Homo sapiens: one gene and its partners. The protein of the gene in region 3 purifies or fractionates together with the protein of the main gene of each other region. This does not show direct contact. Each region holds a gene or a part of one and is shown on either strand. Other genes may lie near its edges.

Region 1 (4,133 bases), about 24 Mb from region 3:
GGAGACAGACTGTCCTATGTTGTGCAGAAAGCTCCCACACCAGGTAGGCAAGCTGGCCACCAGCAAGGCCCTCCTATGAGCATGACAGCCTAAAAGTGCAGGCAGGCCCTCAGCTCAACTATTGGTATATGGAAAATGAGAAATGTTCTGTGAGATAAGAAATGTTTTGTCATTTTTCTCAGATTTGCTCCCAGTCCCCCATCAGCTGCTTTTCCCTTGTATAAAAGAGATCAAAGGAATATACAGGATCTATTCACAGGTCCCACAAGGAAGGTGGTTGGAAGAGTCACAGATAAGGGTGTTGGGTGAGAAGAGCTGGACTGAGTCCAGAGATTGAAATTACAGGAAGCCCCATTAGTCCAAAGCACTGAACTCGGTGTCCTGTTTCTGCCTTCCAGCCTCCTCCTCATCTTCACCTTTCCCCCTCACCAGTGTTGCTTGGCTAAACCAGTATTTCTTGTGTACTAAAGAAACTGAAAAGCTTACCACAAAAGCAAAAGTAGCTTTCATCCTTTTTTTTTTATTTCATAGTATATTTATTAGAATAAGAGATTAGATTTGTTAAACATCTAGGTTAAAATGGTTAAAAGGATTTTCATACAATTTTAGGCACTATACACGTTGTTTACAACAGCATTGGTACTTGGATATGGGGAAAGATAAATCCGACATTTTAATATCTTGATCAATTTGTGACATTCAAAATAATTCCATTTAAGAAACATTAATCAAAACTTAAAGAGACATACCACTAAGTATCCCACACAGTATACTGAAAATAAATATAGAAATACAACCAGAAGTCTACAGATCACCACAGTAGACAGACTGGTGAAGCCCCAGCTATCATGGCAGTGAAGGGCTCTGGCTAGATTTGGATGTCAACTGCTGAGTTCTACATGAAAAGCAAATAATAATAATAAAATAACATGATGTACACTCTCTGATGCTCATTTTCATAGCAGCAAAGCATGCTTCACATGCACTGCCTGTGAAGGATCTCACAAGGCTCCCTCCTAGAGAGAAAGTATGCCCAGCAAGAATAAAGTACCACCAAATGTCAAAGAATCCCGAAAATACAGGCAGACAGCCAGTCATGGAGCAGGAACAGCAGTGCAATTGTAAGAATGACTACCCACATTCACCAAAATTTCACTGTAATTCAGCCTGGCACAGGTTTTGATCATCAGCATACACACAAATAGCCCCAAGCACAAAGCCAATCCACTTAGGGGAACAATAATAGTAATAAGAATAAAGACAGTAATATTAAAAATGACAAGAGTAGAATCTTGGCACATGCTGTGTTCTTCATCCTTTGTCACAGGTGAAATGCACATCTGAACAGAGACAGGCATGGGAAGGAGGCCCAAAAGCGACATGGCAAACCACCGGGCAGGGGACTCGCTCTTTGTTGCTTCCCAAACACTTAGACGCCAGCAGCATGGGTTGGTGTGCTGGGCTGGTTAAGGCCGATGGTGGAGCAGAGCCAACCTGCAAAATCCACTTCCTCAGCATCAGATCTCTTGATAAAAGCATGAACCTGCATGTAAGGAAACGAGAGGACGTGGTGTTAAAAAGAAACAAAAAAACAAAACCCACCAGGAAGGAAAATCCAAGAGTTTCAGGTCTAGAGCTTGTGCTGCACTTGGAAAGAGCACCTGGCACCTGCCCCTGAGCAACAGTGGGGCCAGCTGCAGGCCCAAAGACCTGCTCCACCAGTCACAGCAGCTGTGAGGCCTTGGGCAAGTCACCTCTTGGAGCCTACTCGTGCAGTATGGAGACAGTAACTCTGCCTTAAATGCCTCACAGGCTTGTTAGAAGGGACAAAGAAAATGATGGACTTAGTGCATATTATATACTATATACACCGTCTATGGCTGTCCAGATATTTACAGTATTACTTAGCTATTTCCACTGCCACCAAACGAGACAGCAGGCGGAGAGTGACTCTGGAAGGAGGCTGAATGTAAGATGAGGCAGTCAGTATTAGGGAAAGGCCGCATCCCCATGAAGGGGGTGGGCTGGCCTTTTCTTTCCCATGGCCCCCTCAGGCATTTCCTCTGGCATATGCTTACTCAGGCTGCGGGGGTCACCCCAGCTTTCCCTTAAACTGATGGGAGAGCAAAGGAGACTGGTGTTTGGTATTCTGCAGCCCCAGGCTCAGCTGGACCACAGTGGGCAGGGAATGAATGGGCTCTGGAAGTACTGCACAGATGACTGACAGAGAAGAACAAATGAATAAACAGGTACTGTAAGAATCCGGAATAAATAGACTCACCATGAGTTGCTTCAAATCTGCTCTCTCTGCGGGGTTTTTTATTAAGCTTAAAGGAAGAAAGACAAGGTAAGAGCTGTTGCCTGGCACTGGTTCTAGCTCAAATAACATGTTTGCATGCCTGTCTTCTCTGCACACTAGAGGCCGAGGATTGCCTGGGCTTGATTCATCCTCCTGTTCTAAGCACAGTATCATGCCCACAGTAAGTTAATACATTCTTGCTGAGTTAAACTAAGGTCAAAAAGCAACGTGCCAATCCCTGGAGAGCAAGTACCAAAAGGAGCAGCTACTACATCCATGATGTAGTTAGACATGCCACATAAGTCTTGGCACTCTAAAAAAGGGCTTATGGCAGCAGCCAAGAATCATCAGACGGGAGGGTAAAGGGCAAAACTCTGCCTGCAGAAGCAATGCTGGTGCTTCCAGAAATGGGGTGGGGAGCCTGACAAATCCAGAGTATACGCTTCCAGAGAACAAGGAGCCAACTTACCATTTATTCACAAAATCTTGAAATTCCAGACTGAACACTCCACTGGGCAGTTTTGGAGGAGGCTGCAAACACATGTTGAGATAAGAAAAATGCCTGGCTCCTTGCTCCAGCCATCTCCTCTCCCCATCCCACCCCTCCCACCAGCCAGTGCTACTTTTTTTTAAAGTCTTCTCTGCAGTCCAAAGGCAGTACTACTCTCATCCAGTCAAGGAAAGGCACAGGTAGAAGGCCAGTGCTGCCTGTTGGGTAACCATGTTGGAACCACTGATCTCAAATAGCACATTTAGAATTGGGACCAAGTCAAGTCCACTCACTTGTCGGGTGATTTTGAACTAATCACTATTCCTCTATGAGCCTCAGTTTACTCTTCTATGACATGAAGAGGTTGGGCCTAATGATCTCAGGGACCCTTTCAAGCTCTGACACTCTACAATGGTAAATCTTGGAGTGCGGCATGGGAACGTAACCAGCAATTTACTGGCAGCAACAGCTAGGGGCACGTGCAAACCACCAGGCATAGCCCAGGTCTGACAGCACCTGCAGAAGCAAACCGGTTTTTAAAAATCCCTTTTCTGAGCCCTAGAGAAGCAGTGAAAAGTTAATAAAACATTAACTGACAGAGGGCTGGATCTGGAAGAATGTTACCTGTACATTCCAGAAATGAGGCTGTTTTCAGATTTTCCCATGGTGATCATGCAGCACTATACAGTACAAGGCTCTGGAGCACTGGGCTCATGGCGTTCCATGCAGTCCAGGAAATGTGGGCCCACTTATGTACCTGGGCTGGGAGCTGTGTGTACCCATGCTGACCCACAGACATAATGTCCATGATGTCACTGCTCTGATGTACAGCCCAAAATCTCGTTTTTAATTTGGGACTAAAAATGAGACACTGATCCCCACCACAAAGCCCAACCTAGTGCTCTTCCTTTGAGGGCCATGTCAGTCTGATCTTAGGTGAGGACTAGAACTCAGCTCTTAGAACAGTGACCCAGAGCAAGCCCCATTCTGCAGACTGTCCCCACTGCTGAGGGAATCAAGGGACCATTCAAGGAAGAGAGGAGACCAGCAGCTTGGCCTCCAGAGGCAGCATCCATTCCTTCTGAACAGGAAAGAGCTAGGCAGCAGAGGGGCTGTGTGCCAGCAGAGGCTGCAGTAGAACAACTGCCATGCAGCCAAGCCTCCTAGGAGGTAAGAATGGGAGGTGGGAGGTGGCAAGGAAGAAAGAGCACTGGGTGGGAAGGACCTGGGCTACTTTTCATCTCGGAGGCTCAATTTCCTCACCTGTTTGAAGAGGAACCAATTTGGCCTACCTCAGCAATGCTTGGGAGAATTGCATGGGAAATTAATGTGAAAATTTGGAAG
Region 2 (7,290 bases), on a different chromosome or scaffold from region 3:
CCAGTCGATCTCTCCAAAGTGGTGGTGAGTCTCTGGAAAGTGAAGATAGAATTGGAGGGGGTGGTTTGAGGGTGGGATACAGCCTAGGGGATTAGGGGGTATCTAGAAGGTAGGGAATCAGTGAGCCCTGGAATGAGATTGGGGCTTTCCCTTAGTCCCCCATTTGGAAGCATCCAGTCTTATGACTCTGCTGTTGTCTTTGCTGTTCTCTCCCTCTAACCTATAATCATGTGTGTACAGCACATACACACTCACTTACCCCCTGCTGGAGGCAGGGACTCTTAGATGGGGAACATCTGGGTTCTGAGAACAGTTTCAAGGTGAAGGGAAGAGAGCTGTTGCCTGCCCCTGGCTGGTGGTTCAATTCAAAAGGCCTGCAGCTCTGAACTCCAGGAGGGGAGGCTGAAGAGGACAGACTTGTTAGACAATCACAGCTGGGGGCCAGGGGTAAATTTAGCCTTTGTTCAGCCCCCAGTTATGTGTGGGATGCAGGGCTCAGGGCAATGGAGGGAGGGAAACAGGTGGCATGGGATTAACCCTGTTCCCAGGAAACCCTCCCCACTGTAATTCCTCTTCTTGGGATTCTCCCAAGGCCCAGAGCTGGGAATGGGACTGAGGTGGCTGGGCTTCCAGCCTGGTCCCTTTGGGCCCCTCCTCAGAAGTGGCTGCCAGTTGGTTGGGAGGAGTGCGGGAGAGGGATTGAATAAACTCTCATCTCTCCCCACCTGCTTTTTTCTTCCACAGATCGAGTTTAACAAGGACCAGCTGGAGGGTGAGGAGAAGCTCATCTAAGGCCACTGTCCCATCCCCAATCCCCTGGTCAGATTCTCTTTCTATTCCCCTAACCCCAGTCCTGACCTTGAAACCTCCCATACTAGTCCTCTTTTCCTCCCTTGTTCTGTTCACATAGTTTCTGAAATTCCCTTCTGTCTGGGGGTGATGGGAACCCTAGTCAGTGTCTACACTGACCCTTCCTTATACTTTAGAGTTCAAGGAGGCCTTCGAGCTGTTTGACCGAGTGGGGGATGGCAAGATCCTGTACAGCCAGTGTGGGGACGTGATGAGGGCCCTGGGCCAGAACCCCACCAACGCCGAGGTGCTCAAGGTCCTGGGGAACCCCAAGAGTGATGGTGAGGGGACCCTTGGGAACAATTTGGGTTTTTAGTTTTCAAAAGTTGGATGTTGGTAACAAAAAGAATGAGGTGGATCTCAGGACTTCAAAAACTGTCAAACACAGAAGCAGGAAAATATCCTAAATGCTGAATAGGATGAAAGCATTGTGGTAGGGTTGGGAGCTGGGTCCTATGTAATACTACAATGACCTCTCCTTTACCTCTCTCCAACCTCCAGAGCTGAAGTCGCGGCGTGTGGACTTTGAGACTTTCCTGCCCATGCTCCAGGCAGTGGCCAAGAACCGAGGCCAAGGCACATATGAGGACTACTTGGAGGGGTTTCGTGTGTTTGACAAGGAGGGGAACGGCAAAGTCATGGGAGCAGAGCTCAGACATGTTCTCACCACCCTTGGTGAGGCAGGCAAGGGGGACCAGAACTCCTTTAGAGTGGAGAGGGGGATGGGGTGGGCCAGAAAGACTGGACAGATAAGCAGAGCTAGCAGGAGGCTTACTGTCCTGCAGGTTGTCGGCAGGAGACTGAGAAGGTCAGAGCTATGGGGGTAGAATCTGAAGGACTCGCTCTTCCAGAGGCTAAAGTGCCATCCGGAGGGCAGAGGAAAAGGGATGAGGCGGGAAACCTGAATTTTCATTTTGGAAGAGACGTGTGGGTTGTGTGTTCTGGTACAAGTCTCGTAACCTCCTGGGATTGTTTCCTTGTGGGTCAATACTTTCAGCAGTACTAGGGTGAAATGGAAAGCAAGAGGCATCCATGACCAGGGGAGGATTCCCTTGAGGACTGAGGCTATGGGAGAAGAAGAGGTACCACTCTAAAGAGCGTGGCCTGGCCAGGTATGGTGGCTCACGCCTGTAATCCCAGCATTTTGGGAGACCAAGGCGGGCGGATCACCTTAGCTCGGGAGTTCGAGACCGGCCTGGCCAACATGGTAAAACCCCATCTCTATTAGTAATATAAAAACTAGGCGGGCATGGTGGCACGCACCTATAATCCCAGCTACCCAGGAGGCTGAGGCAGGAGAATCGCTGGAACCCGGGAGTCTGAGGTTGCAGTGAGCCGAGAGATCATGCCACTGTACTCCAGCCTGGGGGACAGAGCAAGGTTCTGTCTCAAAAAAAAAAAAAAAGGCCAGACACGGTGGCTCAAGCCTGTAATCCCAGCACTTTGGGAAGCCGAGGCAGGCGGATCACTTGAGATCAGGAGTTCAAGACCAGCCTGGCCAACATGGTGAAACCTCGTCTCTACTAAAAACACAAAAATTAGCCAGGCATGATGGCGGGTGCCTGTAATCCCAGCTACTTGGTAGGCTAAGGCAGGAGAATCGCTTTAACCCGGGAGGTGGAGGTTGCGGTGAGCCGAGACCGTGCCACTGTACTCCAGCCTGGGTGATAGAGCAAGACTCAGTTTAAAAAAAAGCAAAACAGCATGGGCTGGCCGGGAGCAGTGGCTCACTCCTGTAATCCTAGCACTTTGGGAGGCCAAGGCAGGAGGATCGCTTGAGCCCAGGAGTTCGAGACCAGCCTGGGCAACGTAGTGAGATTCTATCTCTATTTAAAAAAAAAAAAAGTACAAGGCTGGGCGTGGTGGCTCACACCTGTAATCTCAGCATTTTGGGAGGCCGAGATGGGCAGATCATTTGAGCTCAGGAGTTCGAGACCAGCCTGAGCAACATGGCAAAACCATGTCTCTACAAAAAAATTTAAAAATTAGCCAGGCGTGGTGGTGCACGCTTGTAGTCCCAGCTACTTCGAAGGCCGATGTGAATCACTGGAGCCCAGGAGGTGGAAGTTGCAGTGAGCCATGATGATGTCACTGCACTCCAGCCTGGGTGACAGAGGGAGACCCTATCTCAAAAAAAAAAAAAAAAAATTACAATTGTTATGTTTATATTGTTGTTTACAAAAATATATGGAAAAAGCCAGGCGCGGTGGCTCACGCCTGTAATCCTAGCACTTTGGGAGGCCGAGGCAGGTGTATGACCTGAGGTCAAGAGTTTGAGAGCAGCCTGCCCAACATGGCGAAACCTCGTCTCTACCAAAAATACAAAAAATTAGCCGGGCGCCTGTAATCCCAGCTACTCGGGAGGGTGAGGCAGGAGAATCGCGTGAACACGGGAGGCGGAGGTTGCAGTGAGCCGAGATCGCTCCGCTCCACTGCACTCCAGCCTGAGCGACAGGAGCGAAACTCCGTCTCAAAAAAAAAAAGGAAAAGCGTGGCCTGGGTGAGTGAAGGAGGGAAAGGAGGGCCTCAGACGTTGTGTCTGGGATTCAGGAGAGAAGATGACTGAGGAGGAGGTGGAGACCGTTCTGGCAGGACACGAGGACAGCAACGGCTGCATCAACTACGAGGGTGAGGGGACAAAAAAGCGGGAGCGGGGCCGAGGGAGGAGGGCAGCCTGGCGTCTTGCCGCGTGTGGGCGGGGGCACCCCTGGATTACCTAGAGTCAGATGTATTATCCAAAGGCCTGCTTCTGAAGCCCCTCTTGCCTCCTCTCTCTGCAGCCTTCTTGAAACACATCCTAAGCGTCTGAGTGCTGCAGGTAGGGCCCTCCCACCCCTTCGCCGCGCCTTACGAGGCAAGTCTCCCGCCCTTCTCTCAGCCAACATAGAAAAGCAGCGGAGTTCATTCTGCTGTCCGGTTGCTGCACGGGCTCCAGCGCTTCGCAACTTTGGTTTTTTTCCACAGATCCAGTGGGGTCCGGACACTGGGCCCCGCAGGCGAAAGCACGTTCCAGCCACCAGGAGGCCACCTATTGTTTCAAAATAAAGACTGGGTTCCTCTCTTGGTTTCAGACTGCTATTTTTTTCATGGTTGGGGGAGCAGCGGGAGACGGGGAGGGTGCTAGGAGGAGAGGGCGGGAAAAGAGGGCTCTCTCCTCTTCCAATCCTCTGATCTTCCTGCTGTTGGGAGGTGCAGATTCATTGTGCCCCAGCCCACGTCCCCCCACGACCCCCGCCCCCCCACCTCCCCCCACGACCCCCCCCACCTCCGAGCGGGTTCTGTGCCCAGGTGGCGCTGGAGAAAGGAACAGCGGACCCCGCCCAAGTCATTACTAATGTAGCAATCGTCTGCATAAACCCAGGCCACGGTTCCTATTGGCTGAGTCCTCTGAGGGTGACGTCATCGGGACGTACTAAGACTAGGGTTGGGCCGAGAGTCGGAGCCATTACTGCAGGAAAAGGTCCCGGAGAGCTGAGCAGTCAAGATGGTGGGGCCCAGGTCTTGGGAGACGGGCAGGATTGGGGACGAGAGGCAGGAAGAGACGGGTGGGGGGCGAGGAGAAGGCAGGGGTAGGAGGCAAAGGGAATCTGAGGACCCGAAAGGTTGGAGGTGGGGTTGGAAAGACTGGGGCCCTGCGGGGAAGCGAGTCTGCAGCCTGAAACAGGAGTTTGTGGGTCAGAGTTTGTGGGTCAGAGTTTGTGGGGCTGGGATAGAAACTCGGGGGATTGGCGTTCAGATGCTGACCACTTCCCTCTTCTCTGAGCAGTGTGACTTCACCGAAGACCAGACCGCAGGTAGGTTATCTCTGATCCCTACCGAGGTCACCCTTAGGGAGAGGGACACCCTCCCCCCAGCACCTATCCTCTAATCTTAATCTGTCATCTCTTTAGCACCCCCATGAGATTACCCCCTGGATTATTTTCTCTTCTTCTGGATCCTCCATTTTCTTTTCTCACTTTCTTCCTCCCTCCCCTTCCACTCTAGATCTGATCCCAAGCACTGGGTGAGTTTTAGGTGGTGTGGGTATGTGAAAAAACTTGGTCACTTAATGCCTGCTGTGTGTGGGGTCTCGGGAGGGTGTATAAAGCTGCCTGCTTTCCTTTGTCCTTTAATCAGCTACTTCTGCCTCTTTTCTCCTCTTGTGATAACTGTCCCCGCCCTCCCAGCTTGCAGTTGTGAAGATTGTAGAGCAGTGACCTGATATTCTGTGCAGATGGGGACAAGACAGGGGAGTTTGCTAAGGATATGACTGTAGCTATACCCTCTGGAAGTTCTCTTTATACTGGAGGGGTGCGAAGTGGCAGGTTGGGATGACCCTAGTCCCAGGCTGCTGCTCCCACTTCCTTATAAGGACAGGACTGAGACTGGGCGGTGGCGAATTCCTGCCCTGAGAAGTGTAGTAGCAGCAGTGGAGATTGGCAGGCCTGCCGCAGGCAGAGGGGTTGTGTAAATGGATGTTACCAGGCTGCCAGAAGGGGAGGAAGCCTCTATATAGAACACTTGAGTTGGGAGGAAGAGAAATAGAGCCCTCTTAAGTAGACTTTGGTGTACAGTTTGGTGCAGATATCTCGTTTCCTCAGCATGATCAAAGTTGAATGGGCAGCAGAGCTCTGAGGTAGGGTTTGGATTAACCCTCAAATCCTGTGTTGACATTCATCTGAATCCTCAGAGTTCAAGGAGGCCTTCCAGCTGTTTGACCGAACAGGTGATGGCAAGATCCTGTACAGCCAGTGTGGGGATGTGATGAGGGCCCTGGGCCAGAACCCTACCAACGCCGAGGTGCTCAAGGTCCTGGGGAACCCCAAGAGTGATGGTGAGGGGCCTAAAGAACAACTCCTCAGTGTGGTCATGGGCCCACAGTTCTTCAGCTAAGAGCTTCCCTTTATCTTCATAGGCCCCAAACTCAAGCAAGTCTGGATTAGCAAATCCCATGGATTTCCTTGCTTTTAGTGGGGAGTCATCTGTCATCTCTCTGTTCAGTTGAGGTCTCTATAATCCCCTGTCCTGAGAACTTGTGTTACTTCTCTGGCCTGACACTTCCACCTCCTTTATGGCAGAGATGAATGTGAAGGTGCTGGACTTTGAGCACTTTCTGCCCATGCTGCAGACAGTGGCCAAGAACAAGGACCAGGGCACCTATGAGGATTATGTCGAAGGACTTCGGGTGTTTGACAAGGAAGGAAATGGCACCGTCATGGGTGCTGAAATCCGGCATGTTCTTGTCACACTGGGTAAGGTTCTGTGTCCTTGTCCTTGAGCTGAGATGGCACCCTGAGGTACCTCACTTGTCACCCAATTCCAAAAATGCTTTCTTTCCCCCTGCAGGTGAGAAGATGACAGAGGAAGAAGTAGAGATGCTGGTGGCAGGGCATGAGGACAGCAATGGTTGTATCAACTATGAAGGTAAGAGGTGAACTGCGCTTTCTCAGAGAAAGCAGCCATATGGGGCAGGTCAAGTATAGTGTCTGGGGCTTTCCCTATCCCTGGACTTGGGCTCCAAAAAGAGCCAGGAGGCAAGGTGCAGGGCCCTGCCCAGCCCAGCCCAGGAGTGGGAGGTCAGGGCGGTATAACAGGAAAGGAAGGGGGTAGTATTGTAGAGGGTGGGAAGGAATGAGAAGTGAAATAATGGAATGTCTGTCCCCACTGCCTGACCCCTCACCCCATGTCTTTGTCTTGTCTTCACCATGAATGTCTCTTCCTTCCTGCAGCGTTTGTGAGGCATATCCTGTCGGGGTGACGGGCCCATGGGGCGGGTACGGCTCCTCCCAGCCTCTCCTCTAGTTGATCTCCCCAGTGTTTCTTTTTTCCCCAACCTGTGCTCTTTATCCCCTGCCCTTACCCTACTACCATCTGACTTCCTCCTGGCATGTTTCTGCATGGAGCTGACTAGGGAGGGGAGGGATTCCTCAAAGAGGAAGACAACCTGGGGGTACAGTACCTCCTTACCTCTAGAATGGGCCCTGAGGTTTTACTTATGCGGCCCTGGGTGCTGGTGTCTGGGAACTCTCACCAGCCTGTATACCAGTCTTGCTTTAGGGTGACCTTCTGGCCCTGGAGCATGGGTAGCTGGCATAGAGGGGTATGGGTTGCCTGCCCCATTCTGCTGCTATAGCTGAACAGTCCTTTCCCCTTCCCTCGCTGGGCAGCTTGGAGGTACCCTAACCCAAAACTCTGTCCTCTCCTCCCGCCAGTGGCTGACAGTAGCTGTAGGTGTAGTGGAGAACTTTTCTGCCTCTGCTGTGTTCTTGCTGCTTAGGTTTGGGTGGGGGACTAACAGCTGCTGGGAGGGGAGCTAGGGGCATGGAGAACTGGTCAGACTCAAGGTGGCTCCTCTGCAAACTGACCCCAGGGTTGGTTGCTGTGGGCATGTTCCCGCTTATGCTACCTTTGCAGTCTGGTAGTCCCCTGGCCCTTGGCGTACCCCTCCACAGCCCTGTTCCC
Region 3 (6,627 bases):
GCCAGGCTGGTCTTAAAACTCCTGATCTCAGGTGATCCGGCCCGCCTCGGCCTCCTAAAGTGTTGGGATTACAGGTGTGAGCCACTACGCCAGCCCCTTTTCTTCTTTTTTTACTGCTGTGATTTACTTTTTCCACATTCAACATCCCCTAGTCTTTTCTGGTGACTTCCAAGTGACATAGGAACCCCCTAAGGGGCACAGTCTATGTGCTCAACAACAGTATGCTGGTCAAAAAAGGTTAAATGCTGTTGCAATTTTAAACTTTCCACCGTTCGTCAATCAGAATTAAGTGACATATAATGTTTGCTTCCCGCAACACCCTTCTTTTTATGGTGAAGATAACTTAAGCATATTCATTAAAAAGGCTAAAGTCACACGTTCACACATTAAAAGTCACTTTGAGACATTCAATGATCTGATGGTGGACTTACGTTTTCTCCTTTAAAAGGAAGGGGTTGTCTGCTGTTGTGATTTTAACTGATACATCTCACTCTAGTCAAGGTGTTTAGCAGGAACTGTTAACAATGAAACTGAGAAAAACACAAACATGAACAAATGACCTTTTATTTCATACAGAGATACAAAGGCAACTATGTGCAGCAACAATCTGACGGGCAGTCCAAACTCTTGGGAGGAAGTAAATTCATGGTAAATGTCATGATGGCTGGTCGAGGAGAAGGTCAAAGGAGGAGAGAGAGGAGACAGAGAATGCTACAGCTAATAAATAACAGTAATGAGAACTGTGTGGTTTCAACGCCATGAGTTTGTTGGGGCATCCTCTGTGCTACTAAAGCCACAATTCTATATCATCATCATCAACATTCTTGAAGCGCATTTTACACTATTCTGCATTAGCAATTGTGTTGAGGGAACTATAAACCTTAAAATTACTGACACATTTTATTAAAGGAGCTGTAAACTCTGCTCATTATTGCCTGTCTTGGATGTGGCCTTTGGGATTCATAGCCTCTTTTAAGGAAACAGGGTTGACACACTTTGGTTGGTCCCAGTTTTTGAGGCAATGCTAGTTGTAATAGCATCATCTTTTAATCTGAGGAAAATGTTTCTTTAAAAAACCTGTCTTCCAAAATACAACAAAAAACAAGGTCTGGGTAGTGGCGAATCCTTCCATGGCACTCCATGCCTCCCTGTGGGCTGTAACCATGCACCTGAGTAAAGAGTCTCATAAAAATACTTCTCCAATGCATTTATAATAGGGACACACTACATAGTTTGTTATTCATTAAAGCAGTTTATTGGCTTAATGTACATCAGTGAATTTTTAAATGCTAAAAATTTATGATAAAAGAATACTGAATCAAAACATCAAAGAAAGAAAATAGAGGCTCAGCAGCATGATTTCAATATATTTTCCTGGAAAAAGTTTTTTTTTTTTTTAAAGTGTATGACTTTTTATCCAAGAACAAAAGCTTTCTAAATGCAATGTTTAGACTTGATTTTTTTTTTAAACTAAGCCCAGAAAACTGGGGCTCATAAAATAAAGGCACAATGTGGGCAGCAAGAGAAAAAAGGAGAAAAAATGGGGAAAAAATTGGTTTTAATCTCACGTGTAACATAGGTTGGCTGGTTTTGTTTTTGTTTTAGACAATTAAAGGCAGAATTATCTCCCTGAACACTGCAGATAAATCCTAGTGTTTTAGCTATAAGTTTCAAGAGTTCAGATATACAGATAAAGCAATTTAAAAAAAGCTTTTCTTATTCTAAGGCTTTTGATGCATTATATAAATCTTTAAAATTCCTATCACCCACATTTTAAGACATACATCTATACTTTAATAAGGCACTCTTAAGATATAAAACAGTTTTAAAAACAATGACATTCTACATTAGGGCTAACCCATTCCTCTGCCATAGGGATGGAGTGAATTGTCTCTCTGAATCAAGTCAATCTCTGTGCACCAACAAAAACAGGCAGGTGCCTTGACCCATTCTGAATTTATCTGAGTAGCTGAATTTTAGCAATGGGACTCTCCCATCCACTAGTCGGGGAGTTACACAAACAGAATTGCCCAAGTTTGATAATGAAATTTAAAAACATTATCTCCTTTTTTCTAGAAATGCTTCCTTTGAACATGACTGTCACTTCCATTAGCTCCTGTCCATAAAGAAAAACACAATGGAAGATAACCAATGATTCCCCATATCCTTCAGTTTTCCTGATGGGACAGAAATATAAAGGAACTTTATTTTTAAATGACAACCTAATAACTGTTAATAACATGACATTTTAGTTGTGTGTCTTGTATGTATTTATGTCATTGGTGCTAATAGCTTCCACTTCTAAATGACACACATTTGAATCCTACCATCCCTATTGCTAATTAAACAAACACCAAAGCTTACAATATAGTACTGCAACCTCTAAGACTGTAACAACACAGAGAAATTTTAGTGGAGTTTCCACTCTTTCCTAAGTAATGGAAGAAAATGAAGAAACCAGAAAGGTCAGACTAAGCCTGAAACACAATTTCACTATGAAAAAAGGGTAACAAATGTCCCATCAGAGCGAGAGGAGTTAAAAATGTGGCATCGGGAGTGTATCAGATTGAGGTGCTGTTGTTGGCTAGGTCTTTGCTTCCAATGAGGAAAGAAGGACCTAGAAAGGAGCTGTGAGGTGCTTCTTTCCTTCATCCTTCTGGGCTGGCAGCAAACGATCAATTACTTCCCGTAGAACTTTTTGTTGAGAAGGAAGATCAGGAGGTTGACATTTACTTTAGCTCTATCAAATAATTTCATGACTGCAACTCCTTCATACTGTAGCTGCAGCAGGTCCTATTAACAAAACAAAACAAAACAAAACAAAACATTTTGACAGTTAATCAAGTCTGTGGAACAAGGAAAAAGGACACAATGTAGGGAGGGATCCAGATGGACTGAGGCCTGCCTTGTGTGCCAGATGTGAACTGGGGCGAAAGAAAAGTTCCACGCTAGGCAACTACCCACTGCACAACCAGCCTGAGAGCTGGAGCAATAGGGCACATTGGCCAAGGGAGGCTTCTGGTTGATTTGGAGTTAGGAAGTCATGTTGTTCATATCAAAATTCATCATACATGGAAAGAAAAAGAAACATGTTCAATTGCCACACACATCTAAGCTTTTTATTTCAGAAGTCACAATGACATTTTCCCATTTCATCCATGTTATGGGTCACTAGTTTTAATAAATCTGGAAAAGGTGAAGCATTTAAACCTATGATGAAATATACTAAGCACGGGGAAATGAGATAAGGCTAGTAATGTCACCTTAATACTATCTGATAGATTCTTAATTTCTATTCCATATGAGAACACTTTCTATCCCGAAGGCAAGGGGAAAAGAGAGAACTTGATGTTTTATTAGGTGTCTGCCATGTGCTTGGCATTGTGTAAGCACATTACATAGTATCTTTTAAAGTCCTCACAAAAATTTTTATGAGGTGCGATTATTCTAACTTTAAAGATGAGCTACTGAGACTCAGAGATGTTAAATGACTTGCACAACAGGACAGAGATGGAGGCGATAAATCCAGATCTGACTGCAATGCTCCCGCTTTTCCTGCTACTTTCACCATTGTCCTGAACAAGTTTAAGAAATCTGAGTGGTCTCACTTCTGAACTTTATAAGAGTGGTGATGAGAAAGCAAGGGTCAAAAGTCTTGAAAGGACCCCACAAGGCCGGGTGTGGTGGCTCACGCCTGTCATCCCAGCACTTTGGGAGGCCGAGGCAGGCGGATCACGAAGTCACGAGTTAGAGACCAGCCTGGCCAACATGGCGAAACCCTGTTTCTACTAAAAATACAAAAATTAGCTGGGCGTTGGGGCGTGGTGGTGCACGCCTATATTCTCAGCTACTCAGGAGGCTGAGGCAGGAGAATCACTTGAACCCAGGAGGCGGAGGTTGCAGTGAGCCGAGATTGTGCCATTGCACTGCAGCTTGGGCAATAAGAGCGAAACTGTCTCAAAAAAAAAAAAAATTAGCCGGGCGTGATGGTGTGCGCCTGTAATCCCAGCCACTCAGGAGGCTGAGGCAGGAGAATCACTTGAACCCACGAGGTGGAGGTTGCAGTGAATGGAGAACACGCCACTACACTCCAGTCTGGGAGACAGGGCGAGACTCTGCCCCCCCCTCCAAAAAAAGAAAGGACCCCACAAGTTCAATTATCTGTTGGAAAAATCCTAGCAGCTCCATGAGGGCTGCTGGGACCTGTGCCTAACAGAATACCCCACACCTGGCAGTTACCCCACATTTAATGAATTTGTACATAAATTAATAAATTACCACAGGCAGACTGGTTGGCCTAACATGATTTGGTTAAAAAATTTAAAAATAAAAATATGTTCTGATAACTCCACGTAAATAAAAAATTTTAAATTAAAAAAATAATTTGGTGAAACTGAGGGAATAAGAGGTTCCTATTCTTTTTTTTTTTTTGGTGGAAGTACTTTAGTTAGCTGTGTGCATCACAAAATCATTTCACATTTGTTTAGCTAACATGTTTTAATGGTCTACTGGTCATTGAGAAGGAAACGAAGATGACTAAGAAATGCTACCTGTCCTTAAGGAGTTTATGGCTTTAGCGGGGAGAGGGGAAGTAAGTCAACACCTACTGTAAACAGAGGATGTCTGCAAGGGCTACAGAAGCGAAGGGGAAACCACCTATTATGGCTTGGCTGGGGGAGGCACACCCATGGAAGTACTCCATGGAGGAACAAAAGGGGCGGGGTTGGGAGGCAGGGGAGGGGAGGGAGGGCAGCATGAGCAGAAGCCCAAATGTACATTGACAGGAAGGCACCTGCCCGGGCTGGCAGGGCATGGCTGTGTGAAGCAGTGCAAGAAAGGAGAGAGAAGCAGACTAACCGGTGCCACACACACAAAGCTAAAGGAGTCTGGATGTCACCTAGGAATCCTCTCGATGCCCTGTTATTTTTTAACGTGTAAAAATCAGATATTTCAAAATAAAACTTAGGGATCTTTATGCTACAAAAATGAATTACTCCCGAGTTCTTTTTGGATTTAAGATAGAATTCAGTTTACAAACATAAACTTTACACACACCTTGTCAGAATGTATCTAACTTTTAAGTACCTATATCAAATCAAAATGACAAAAAGATTTCAAGCTACTGAGTGGGCTTAGAATTCTGCAGTGTCAGCATGTGTACTTCTGCATTTTGTTCAAGTCCAAGGTGTCAGCTCGATTTAGTGGCAGCACTAAGTGGAAGCTTCAGCTAAATGTTTTCTGAAGAGTGACATCTGCAAAAGCTCTCCAGAGCGCACACACCAAACCAGACATGCTGAAACCCTCAGCTTCTTTCCCCGCAGTGTGGAGCCTAGCTCACTGCTGAATGTAGACAGCTTTCCTCAGATGAGTCTCCTCTTTATCTATTTCTCCTACTTGGACAAGAATCTCATCCAGAAAGTTTTTGGTTCCTGCTGGTGCATACCCACCTGATAATGTAACATAAAAGTCTCCATTTGAACTCCCATGAATTTGGCTTTCACTTCGAAGTCTCCAACTTCTTCTGTTGGACTGATTTCAAATATAACATTTTTAAACCTGTTGAAAGATAACATCGTAAGGGTATGGTTTTTATATTCTCATATAAAAATATTCTGTGAAATGGGGAAAGGAGATGAACCAAGTCTTCAAGAGTGAAAAGGGCTGCAGAAAATACAGGTCAAAAGTACTTCTGCAGCTGAAGCAGCACAGATTGCCAAGCCCAAGTACCATCTGCTCTGGGACTTGGAGAGAGGAATGGCAACCTCTCTCTGCCTGCAGCACTTACATCCTATCAAAGAGGAACCACTGAGGAGTTCCACAAGTGGCGTGTGAAGGGATGACATCATAGGAATTCTCTTCACTTCCACATGGCCAAAAAGGAAACCTAATGATAAAAGGAGAAAACGGAGGACACTGGGGAAGGAGAGGGTGTATGTGTTTGAATACATGCATGTTTGAGGACTGGGAGAAGTAAATAAACAAAAGGGGGTCCGTATAAAAAGCACCAAGGGAGGAGGTTTTCTAGAAAGAGTAGGTGCTGTGTATATAAGCACACTCAGTATTACCAAAGATAAATTGTTATTATTGAACGTATTTAAGTTATCACTCATTCACAATATGTTACGTGCCAGGAAATTTTGGGGGGCCAAAAGGAAAAGGTATTATGCAGCCGGGCACAGTGGCTCACATCTGTAATCCCAGCACTTTGGGAGACCGAGGCGGGCGGATCACGAGGTCAGATCGAGGCCATCCTGGCCAACATGGTGAAACCCTATCTCTATTAAAAATACAAAAATTAGCTGGGCATAGTGGCATGCACCTGCAGTCCCAGCTACTCAGAAGGCTGAGGCAGGAGAATTGATTGAACCCGGGAGGCAGAGGTTGTAGTGAGCTGAGTACCATACCCTATCACCACTGCAGTCCAGTCTGGTGATAGGGCGAGACTCCGTCTCAAAAAAAAAAAAAAAAAAAAAAAAAAAAAGGGATTATGCTGTTCTCTGGATGATCAAAGTATAGCACCCCAGATTTCCAGAACTCAACTATGGAGCTGCCTTACCTATTACGAACAGGGCTGAGAACCATGAAAGATGCAAAAAGGTCACTGAGAGTTAAAGAAGTCACAAAAAC

Evidence for each region. Proteins that work in one complex are often made in the same cells at the same time.
Region 1: the proteins of IQGAP1 (region 3) and MAP2K1 purify together in Homo sapiens (affinity purification with western blotting; 3 studies listed by BioGRID, with this or other methods). This does not show direct contact.
Region 2: the proteins of IQGAP1 (region 3) and MYL6 purify together in Homo sapiens (affinity purification with mass spectrometry; 5 studies listed by BioGRID and IntAct, with this or other methods). This does not show direct contact.

The regions. Positions count from the first base shown.
Region 1 is NC_000015.10:66,487,912-66,492,044, reverse strand, and holds the end of MAP2K1 (dual specificity mitogen-activated protein kinase kinase 1), read right to left. Parts: intron 2,831-4,133; coding exon 2,769-2,830; intron 2,328-2,768; coding exon 2,282-2,327; exon of another isoform or gene 1,544-2,281; coding exon 1,430-1,543; 3' UTR 501-1,429; downstream 1-500. UniProt on the Homo sapiens protein: Dual specificity protein kinase which acts as an essential component of the MAP kinase signal transduction pathway.
Region 2 is NC_000012.12:56,154,069-56,161,358, forward strand, and holds the start of MYL6 (myosin light polypeptide 6), read left to right. Parts: upstream 1-4,290; 5' UTR 4,291-4,333; coding exon 4,334-4,336; intron 4,337-4,615; coding exon 4,616-4,643; intron 4,644-5,518; coding exon 5,519-5,662; intron 5,663-5,906; coding exon 5,907-6,080; intron 6,081-6,174; coding exon 6,175-6,252; intron 6,253-6,557; coding exon 6,558-6,586; 3' UTR 6,587-6,602; intron 6,603-7,290. Other genes in the region: MYL6B (myosin light chain 6B), read left to right, coding at 1-24, 745-772, 987-1,130, 1,351-1,524, 3,400-3,477, 3,630-3,658. UniProt on the Homo sapiens protein: Regulatory light chain of myosin. Does not bind calcium.
Region 3 is NC_000015.10:90,496,161-90,502,787, reverse strand, and holds the end of IQGAP1 (ras GTPase-activating-like protein IQGAP1), read right to left. Parts: intron 5,557-6,627; coding exon 5,448-5,556; intron 2,794-5,447; coding exon 2,680-2,793; 3' UTR 549-2,679; downstream 1-548. UniProt on the Homo sapiens protein: Plays a crucial role in regulating the dynamics and assembly of the actin cytoskeleton.